Regions from separate parts of the Homo sapiens genome. Here region 1 is linked to region 2. The links come from fine-mapping of genetic effects on gene expression. A gene starts in region 2. The other region holds a variant in brackets. All regions are shown on one strand. Distances are between the middles of the regions.

Region 1 (5,237 bases), 93 kb after region 2:
TTTATTCTTGCATTTTTTGCACATTTTTATTATTTGCTAATGTAATTCTCCTTTCCAAAGAAAATCTGACTTGCTTAAATGAATGTTTAAAGAAGTTAAAAACTGCACAGTGGAATCCACATTTAAGAAACCCCTTTATGGGCAAAAGTATTTGTCTCTTTCTCAAACAGAAATTTTATGTTGCTGTTAAAACAAAAGTGGCTTGATTTCTTAGATACACCAATAAAACAAACAGTATAATGTATCAACAGTATAATGTAACATTTAATTATGATTTCTTCTTTTTTACTTCTATTTTTTTTTTAGACAGGGTCTTGCTCTGTCACCCAGGCTGGAGTGCAGTGGCCATCATCACAGTTTATGGCAGCCTCAGCCTCCTGGGCTCAAGTGGTCCTCCCACCTCAGCCCCACAAGTAGCTGAAACCACAGGCATGCACTGCCATGCCTAGCTAATTTTTATGTATTTATTATTTATTTTTGTAGTCTCCCTTTGTTGCCCAGGCTGGTCTTGAACTCTTGGGCTCAAGCGATCCTCCCATCTCGGACTCCCAAAGTGTTGAGATTACAGGCGTGAGCCGTTGTGCCTGGCCTTTTTATGATTTCTTGATTCACAGGGAGAAATGTACCTCTCACTCAAATCAGAATATTTATATTGCTCTGGCTTGCGTGTTTCCCCCGGGGTGAAAAGAGGATGGAAGCCAAATTATAATGACGAGGTTCCTTGATGAGAAGGGGCCCGAATAAAAGGAATACGGTGTATGGTTTGGTTCTGCAGAGGATACGACAATTTGATAACATCTCTCTCTGCAAAAGGAACGCATACGGGGGCTACAGGTTGAAGACACACGCTAGGAGTTCTCTCCCCTCAGATTTCCCATCTTCCTCCTTCACTTGCTCATCTCCATTTTGTTGACATATTCTTTCTTTAGATGTATTAATACCATTAGCCTGTTTTCCCTAAAATTCCCTGATGACAGGAATTACCTGGAGTGCTTGCCAAAAGTAGATTTCTGAATTAGAATCTCTAAGGGAAAGGCCTGGCATTCTGTAGACTCAACAAATGCCCCAAGTTGTTTTGACCAGGAAGGTTTGGGAACAATGAGTTGGTCTAGTGCATCTGAAAATTTCACATTCCTACTAATCACCTGCAGCCCCCCGATTCCACTGGTCTAGAGAAGGGCTGAGAGAGTCTCCATTTCTAACAAGCTGCCAGGCTTGCAGCCCGATGACTGCTTTTTTTAAATTAAATTAAATTTTTTTTTTTTTTGAGACGGAGTTTCACTCTTGTTGCCCAGGCTGGAGTGCAGTGGCATGATCTCGACTCACTGCAACCTCTGCCTCCCAGGTTCAACCGATTCTCCTGCCTCAGCCTCCTGAGTAGCTGAGGTTACAGGTATGCACCACCATGCCCGGCAAATTTTGTATTTTTAGTAGAGACGGGGTTTCTCCATGTTAGTCAGGCTCGTCTCAAACTCCCGACCTCAGGTGATCCGCCCACCTCGGCCTCCCAAAAGTGCTAGGATTACAGGTGTGAGCCACCGCGCCCAGCCTGAGGACTGCATTTTGAGTGGCATGCATCAGTGATTCTCAAAAGGTAGTCCAGGGCCAGCAGCAGCAGCACTACCTGCGAAGTTATTAGAAATGCAAATTCTCAGCCCCACCCTACATCTCCTGCATCAGAATCTTGGGGGTGAGGCTCAGCAAGACGTCCGGTGAGATTTTTATACGTATGAAAAATCAAGAACCACAGATCAGATCTGTAGTTAGTTAGGCTTAGCTGCTTCTTACTGATTCTGGCTGGAAAGTTATTTCACTGGAGATGAACATTTGGATATTTCCAATCTTACTTGTTTTGTGTACATTTACATAGTTTAACTCCACTTGGGGAGGTGCCTTGCTGGCCACTTTGTAAAGAGTTCAGGGAATATTGGCAAGAAAGTCATCTTGGGGTATTTTGAGGGAACCTGTTCCTTGTTAGCTTCAAATTTAATGTTTAAAGATCACTACGGAAACCATGTTAGGTTAGAACAGGCTTTGCAAATGCAAATGTGAAAGGGACAAGCACACAGACAGCAGTGAGTGAGGTAGCATGGGGGAAAGGGGAGGAGAGGTTTGGCGAGCAGGGCTCTTGGAGAGCAGCTACTCCTCAGCCCCACCCAGCTAGTGCCAGGC[C/T]AGGCGGGAATGTGGGCCCAGGGCGGTCACATCTTCCAACTTTTTGCGTGAAATCTCCTGATTTTGAAATTTTGGCAAACTCTTAGATTCGTGGTAAATATTCTGTGTGCTGAACCAAGTTGGCCTTGGTTGGCAGCTCTGCCTTGGAGGAACTAGCCAGGGAGGTGATTCACCAGCCTTGCTGCCCCTCCGTGGGCCACCCTCACAAAGAAGCAAGCCAAGGCTGCTCTGCCTATGGAGTACTGGTTCTTTTGTTTCTTTACTTTCTTAATAAACTTGCTTTCATTTTATAGATTCGTCCTGAATTCTTCCTTGCGCGAGATCCAAGAACCCTCTCTTGGGGACTGGATTGGAACCCCTTTCCCATAACACTATTACTTACTTCTGGGGTTTTCATAAGAATTAATTTATGTATGAGAGTTCCCTTCTCTCCCCTGGACACTTTCCCCAAGAGTCCTTTGCTTTCTGTTTTTTGTTTGTTTTTGTTTTTGAGATGTAGTCTCACTCTGTCCCTCCGTCCCCCAGGCTGGAGTGCAGTGGCAAGATCTCCGCTCACTACAACCTCTGCCTGCCGAGTTCAAGCGATTCTCCTCCCTCAGCCTTCCAAGTAGCCTGGGACTACAGGCGTGTGCCACCACACCTGGCTAATCTTTGTATTTTTAGTAGAGACACGGTTTCACAATGTTGGGCAGGATGGTCTCTATCTCTTGACCTTGTGATCCGCCCCCCTTGGCTTCTCAAAGTGCTGGGATTACAGGCGTGAGCTGCCACGCCCGGCAGGTCCTTTGCTTTCAAAACACTATTGAGTGTTTCATTGCTGTCAAATTAAATCCAGAGGAGTATCTGAGATTCCATGTCAGTCATCTAACATGCTGTGGAAACCACAGTCTCCAAACAGGTTTCTACAGAGACTACCACTCTTTCCCTTCCTCAATTAATTACACAGAAAGGACGGGAAAGGTGCACAGGGTGAAGGGGCAGATGGGGAAAATAAAAACAAAGCAGCAAGCCAAGCTGAGGTATCACCCAGCTCTGGTGGTCCACTGCTGGGAAACTCAACCACCAACTACTTTCCATGCCCCATGAAAGGTAAGTCAGCTCTTCTCTCCAAGTAGCAACCTGATCAGCCAAAGTTTAGCGCCCATGGAAATAGTTGGAACACTTCATATTGGAAAATGAAGTTTCAGATTGTGTAATCCCTCTAGAAGCAAAGAATACTTAACAGGAAAGTAATTCCAGAGGCACATCCAGGTTTTGCAGGTCCTGAAGCTTATACAGTTTGGGGAGAACTTACTTAAGAAAAAGAGTGTGAAATGACATATACAAAAATAGTTTTGAAAGTACAAGGCAGTCTTAGCCAAATGTGGTAGAATGTTTACTTTTAAAATTTTACAAAAATCAGATGACCAGGGCCTTGGAAGGGGCCCATACAAGCAGGGGTCCTGGAGGTTTCTGAGTATCATGGAACATAGGCCTGTGTCCTGGTGACCACTGGAGGGCTGGGAGGGGTAGTGTCCGGAATGAAAGTGTTGGTGCTCTGGGGAGCTGGTGATGTTCTGTGTCTTGACCTAGGTAGGAAGGTGACTACGCAGGGGGTTATTTCACAACAATCTGTTAAGCTGCACACTTGGGTTTTTGCTTTTTTTTTTTTTTTTTTTTTTTTTGAGGTGGAGTTTTGCTCTTGTTGCCCAGGCTGGAGTGCAATGGCACAATCTCGGCTCACTGCAACTTCCACCTCCCGGGTTCAAGTGATTCTCCAATCTCAGCCTCCTGAGTAGCTGGGATTACAAGCACCCGCCACTAACGCCCGGCTAATTTTTGGTATTTTTAGAAGAGATGGGGTTTCACCATGTTGGTCAGGCTGCTCTAGAACTCCTGACCTCAGGTAGTCCACCTGCCTCGGCCTCCCAAAGTGCTGGGATTACAGGCATGAGCCATGGTGCCTGGCCTAGTTTTTGCACTTTTATGTATACTTGTTATATTTCATAATTTAAGAAATCATTTGGCCCTTTTCTAAGTTAGGGAAAATACTCATTGGATCAAATAGGTCTTCAATAAATACTTGTTGAATGAGCTAATGAATGAATGATTTTCAAATATATTCAGAAAATATACAGTAAAGGCCTAAATGTGTAAGGACATGTTATTAAATATGTGATAGTGGCCAGATGTGGTGGCTAACACCTGTAATACCAGGACTTTGAGAGGCTGAGGAAAGTAGATCACCTGAGGTCAGGAGTTTGAGACAGCCTGGCAAACATGGTGAAACCCGGTCTCTTCTAAAAATACAAACATTAGCAGGGTGTGGTGGCGTTCACCTGTAATCCCAGCTACTGGGGAGGCTGAGGCAGGAGAATCACTTGAATCCGGAAGTTGGAGGTTGCAGTGAGCTGAGATAGCACTGTTGCACTCCAGCCTGGGCAACAAGAGTGAAACTATGTCTCAAAAAAAAAAAAGTTATAGTATTATTATAGCATAGTATATTATTTTAAGCAAAAAGAGAAGTAAGATTTAATGAGAGAAAATTATATTTTACTTCATTTTTGCCTTTTTTTTTTTTTTGGAGACAGGGTCTCTGTCGCCCAGGCTGGAGTGCAGTGGTGTGATCATGGCTCACTGCAACCTCTGCCTCCTGGGGTTGGTGATCCTCCCACTTTAGCCTCCCTAGTAATTGGGACTATTATAGGTGTGCGCCACCCCACCCGGCTAATTTTTGCATTTTTTGTAGACATGGGGTTTCGCCACATTGCCCAGGCTGGTCTCGAGCCCCTGGGCTCAAGTGATCCCCCACCTTAGCCTCCCAAATTGCTGGGATTACAGGAATGCGCCATTGTGCCTGGCTCTCAATTTTGTTTTTCTACAAACCCGTATTTGTCCACTCTAATAAAGAACTAGGATTGGAGGAGAAATGGACAAGAGAAACAGGTAGAGGGAGGTACAGAAGGGAACATCCAGCATGTGTGTAGATATTTGAAGTTATTTATCTTGAGTTAATCCAAGGCAAATCTTCAATTTTTGTATTACAATTTATAAAATGCATCTTTCTCCTAAAAGAAATGTTCCCC
Region 2 (5,237 bases):
ATTTTTTTTGCTTCTTTTTTGGAGACATTCTCTCACTCTGTTACCCAGGCTGGAGTATAGTGGCATGATAAGAGCTCATTGCAGCTTCAAACTCCTGGGCTCAAGTGATCCTGCCTCAGTCTCCCGAGTAGCTGGGACTACAAGTGTGCATCATTACGCCCAGTTTTTTTAAAAAAATGTTTGTGCAGATGCGGGTCTCACTATATTGCCCAGGCTGGTCTCAAACTCCTAGGCTTAAGCAGTTTGGGAGGCCCACCTCAGCCTCCCAAAGTGATGGCGTGTCCGAAATTGGTGGGTTCTTGGTCTCACTGACTTCAAGAATGAAGCTGCACACCCTCGCGGTGAGTGTTACAGCTCTTAAGGCGGCGCGTCTGGAGTCTGTCCCTTCTGATGTTCAGATGTGTTCGGAGTTTCTTCCTTCTGGTGGGTTCGTGGTCTCACTGGCTCAGGAGTGAAGCTGCAGACCTTCGCGGTGAGTGTTACAGCTCTTAAGGCAGCGTGTCCGGAGTTGTTCGTTCCTCCCGGTGGGCTCGTGGTCTCGCTGGGCTCAGGAGTGAAGCTGCAGATCTTCGTGATAAGTGTTACAGCTCATAAAAGCAGCGTGGACCCAAAGAGTGAGCAGTAGCAAGATTTATTGCAAAGAGCGAAAGAACAAAGCTTCCACAGCGTGGAATGGGACCCGAGCAGGTTGCCAATGCTGGTTTGGGCAGCCTGCTTTTATTCTCTTATCTGGCCCCACCCACATCCTGCTGATTGGTAGAGCCCAGTGGCCTGTTTTGTCAGGGTGCTGATTGGTGCGTTTACAATCCCTGAGCTAGATACAAAGGTTCTCCACGTCCCCATCAGATTAGTTAGATACAGAGTTTCGACACACAGGTTCTCCAAGGCCCCACCAGAGCAGCTAGATACAGAGTGTCGATTGGTGCATTCACAAACCTTGAGCTAAACACAGGGTGCTGACTGGTGTATTTACAATCCCTGAGCTAGATATAAAGACTCTCCACGTCCCCACCAGACTCAGGAGCCCAGCTGGCTTCACCTAGTGGATCCCGCACCGGGGCTGCAGGTGGAGCTGCCTGCCAGTCCTGCGCCGCCGTGCGCTCGCATTCCTCAGCTCTTGGGTGGTCGATGGGACTGGGCGCCGTGGAGCAGGGGGTGGCGCTCATCGGGGAGGCTTGGGCCGCACAGGAGCCCATGGAGTGGGTGGGAGGTTCAGGCATGGCGGGCTGCAGGTCCCGAGCCCTGCCCCGTGGGAAGGCAGCCAAGGCCCGGCGAGAAATCGAGCGCAGCGCCGGTGGGCCAGCACTGCTGGGGGACTCAGTACACCCTCCGCAGCCACTGGCCCGGGTGCTAAGTCCCCCATTGCCCGGGGTCAGCAGGGCTGGCTGGCTGTTCCGAGTGCGGGGCCCACCAAGCCCACGCCCACCCGGAACTCCAGCTGGCCCGCAAGTGCCGCACACAGCCCCAGTTCCCGCTCGTGTCTCTCCCTCCACACCTCCCTGCAAGCTGAGGGAGTGGGCTCCGGCCTTGGCCAGCCCAGAAAGGGGCTCCCACAGTGCAGTGGGGGACTGAAGGGCTCCTCAAATGCCACCAAAGTGGGAGCCCAGGCAGGGGAGGTGCCGAGAGCAAGCGAGGGTTCTGAGGACTGCCAGCACGCTGTCACATCTCAATGGGGGGTTACAAGACATGAGCCACAGCACCCAGCGTAGTTAATATTTTATTTAGAATTTTTCCACTGATACTTACATGTGAAATTGGTCTGTCGTGTGTGTGTGCGTGATATCTTTGTTGATTTTGGTATCAAAGTTATGTTTACTTTTTAAAAAGAGTTTGGAAGACTTCCATCTTTTTTGTGCTCTGGGACAGAATTAATAGCATTTGAGTCAATTACTCATTTGTGTGGAATTTTCTTGCAAGACATGGAGGGCTTTTGTAACTTTTAGGGGTGAAGGTGAAGGTGAAAGTGGGCCATGGTGGTAGCAAGGATAGTTCTTTGATAAACTTCTCTATTTTTTCTGTGGTAACGGTTTGCTTAAATTTTGTCTCTTCCAGGATCTATTTTGATAAATTGTATTTTCTTGTAACATCATCCATTTCATCCAGAGTTTTAAGTTCACTTGAAGTTAAGCAAAATTAGCATCTTACAAATCTATAATTTGTTTCCTGTGTCTGTGATTTTCCCCTGCTTGTTTTTTAAATCATGTCAAATGTGCATTTTTCTCTATTTCTGATTAGATAACTATTTTATTTTTTGTGAACCTGTGGGTTTATTAGTCCTTTGACACTGGTTTCCTGAATTCATTTATTTATTCCTTTATCTTCCCTAATTTCTCCCTCCTGCTTTCCTCATGAAGCATCTACATGTAGTGTTTACAGTTTCTTTATTCTCTAGATGTTCCTCAGTTTGCTCTTTGACTTCCTCTTTTTCCCAATAGTCAGTTAGAATACCTGTTTTAAGCTCAGGTGGTTTAAAGATTTTCACTTTAGCTTATTTATTTTTTCATCCCTGAGAGCACTAGAGAATTGTGTATCCTGCTGTCCATCCGCATTTGGCTTCTTCCCCAGGGTTCTTCTCCCAGAAGGTGACGAGAGCGAAGAAACCCCACGGGATGCAGGAAGAAACAGTGACAGGCAACCAAGAGGGGGAGGATGGAGAAAACCCTTGCCTTAGTCAGAGCAGGCCCCAGGGGACGCAGAAACAAAGGCCACACCCCCACGAGCACGTGGCCAGACTGCCCAATCGTCGCTACTGAAGCCGGGCTCTGGTCTTTGATTGGTGTTCGTGGAGACGCCCTCACATTCTTGGATCAGCCCAAAGGTAGGCTCAGGCTCCGACGGTGGCCGGCGGGGGTCACGAGGCTTCGTAGTGGAGGAACGGGTTTGGCGTGTGGGACGCAGCTGCCTCTGTACTGGGGAGTCACGGAGTGGCCGGGCTCCAGGGACATGGCGGCGGCCTCTGCGGTGTCGGTGCTGCTGGTGGCGGCGGAGAGGAACCGGTGGCATCGTCTCCCGAGCCTGCTCCTGCCGCCGAGGTGGGTGGAGGGGCCATGGCTCAGTGGGCAGAGGCGGGAGCGAGGGGTGCACGGACCCGCGTGAGCGGTGGGAGGTGCGGCGGAACCCAGGGTCGGTGTGGGGAGGACGGTAGGAAAACCCCAGGCACTTTCGGAGGGGTTCTGCCGGCAGTCACGGCGTCGGGAGGAAGACATCCCCACCAGCCCTTCCCTTTCTCCCCGCTTCCGCACATCCACGCTTCAGCGCGCCTTTGGCTTCTGTTTTTCCATTTCTGAGGACTGGGCCCGCCATCCTCCAGGCTCCCCTCGCCGTCGCTGCAGCTCGTAGCCGTTTACATCGGGCTTTCGCAGCACCCCTTAGGTGGGAGCGTTGTTATAATCCGGTTCCGGGGAAGCCCAAAGGGATCAACGACTTCCTCAACGAAACACAGCTAGTAAGAAATGGGGCCGGGATGCCCTCAAAGCCATTTTTCAGTTCAGCTGTGCCCCATCAGGTGTCCAGTTCAGAGAAAGACTCCTGGAGTTCCTTCTCATTGTTAGAAGAGTGAAGTTGTCAAGAAGAGCAAATGTACCTTCCACAGAGCTGGGAAATTATTTTGTCAAAAACTCTTGTACCCAAGTTTGAACAACGCTATCAGATGACTCAGTCTAGCTCACCTGACTCCAGCTCTGTTTCAAATTTTGAGCTCTAAGCTTTGGTGGCAATAACTCTGGCAGTGAAAAAACCCTCAGGCTTGTAGATAGCTTTGCTTCTTTGTCTTCTTTTGCTTCATCGTTATCATCCTTCATCATTCTGGAAAGATTGACAGTTTAGTGTTCAAGGGCACAGACTCTGCAGTCAAGGCTGAGGTCTTAGTTAGCTACTCACTAGGTGTGTGACTTTGGGTAAGTTACTTAATATTTCTTCTTTAATTTCCTCACCTTGGAGATGATACGAGTACCTTGGGTTGTGAAAACTAAATGAATTAATTCATGGAATGAGGTTTAAGCACAATCTGGTACATAAGATCAGTCTATAAATGCAAACTCAACCATTTATATGAACGTTTGCTTGCTTTTATTTTCCAGAAATATTGTAGATGCCCTTTTTAGTTACTTAATTGTAGGAGTGCCCCAGAGAAACATAAGAAAGTTGTTGGAAGTTGGCGGGGCGCGGTAGCTCACGCCTGTAATCGCAGCACTTTGGGACGCCGAGGCGGGCAGATCACGAGGTCAGGAGATCGAGACCAACCTGGATAACACGGTGAAACCCCGTCTGTACTAAAAAATACAAAAAATTTAGCCGGGCGTGGTGACACGCGCCTATAGTCCCGCCTGTTAGTCCCAGCTACTCGGGAGGCTGAGGCAGGAGAATGGTGTGAACCCAGGAGGCGGAGCTTGCAGTGAGCTAAGATCACGCCACTGCACTCCAGCCTGGGCGACAGAGTAAGACTCCGTCTCAAATAAAAAATAAAAAAATAAAAAAAAAAGTTGGTGTAAGTAATGTTAATGTTCTTCTTGTTCTTCTGGTTTTTCTTTTCTTAGGCCTCCAGGGCTCTTCAGGATAGTACCATAGACCCATTTCCTGTCTTCCCTTTCAAAGCTTAGCTATTGTCTAAAGAACTATCCTCAAGTATGTCACTCTGGAGAGTGTTAGAGTTGTTAATGGCTTATAGAAGTAAAACTCTTTGCCAGGAGACTTGGTTCATGCCTGTATTTTCAGCAGTTTCTCAGCACTGTGGGATCCAAGGTGGGAGGATTGCTTGAGTTCAAGAGTTCAAGACCAGCCTGGGCAACACAGTGAGGCTTCATCTCTACAAAACATTAAAAAATTAGCCAGGCGTAGTGGCACACACTTGTAGTCACAGCTACTTGGGAGGATGAGGAGGGCGAGGACGGCCTGAGTCCAGGGGTTCCAGGCCGTAGTGAGCCATGATCACACCACTGTACTCCATCCTGGGTGACATCCCATCTCAAATAAAACAAAAACAAAAAAATCTTAACAGCACAGATAGTTTACATTATTTTTATGTTATGAATCTTTAGTAGCTCACAGAAAATAATCTCTGGTGGCAGAATTATAGACATGACAATAAGCTGGTATAGAGCTACCTTGAATCAGGGAAGCAGCTTCTTTTTTTTTTTTTGAGACGGAGTCTCGCTCTGTCGCCCAGGCCGGACTGCGGACTGCAGTGGCGCAATCTCGGCTCACTGCAAGCTCCGGGGAAGCAGCTTCTTAATCTTGTT

The links. PIP is the estimated chance that this variant, and not a neighbour inherited with it, causes the effect. A credible set is the group of variants that fine-mapping cannot tell apart.
Region 1: its variant is the best candidate, but not a certain one, in a credible set for the expression of MCCC1 in whole blood (TOPMed, PIP 0.70).

What each region holds. Positions count from the first base shown.
Region 1 is chr3:183,003,684-183,008,920 of GRCh38, reverse strand. No RefSeq gene overlaps it. Among named protein-coding and RNA genes, the nearest start is that of DCUN1D1, 26 kb to the right of the region's middle. The variant C/T (reference allele first, on the strand shown) is at 2,173.
Region 2 is chr3:183,097,147-183,102,383 of GRCh38, reverse strand. MCCC1 (methylcrotonyl-CoA carboxylase subunit 1) reads left to right here and starts at 2,888. Exons shown (of 19, transcript NM_020166.5): 1 at 2,888-3,032. The coding sequence starts at 2,944. RefSeq lists an enhancer at 2,823-2,962.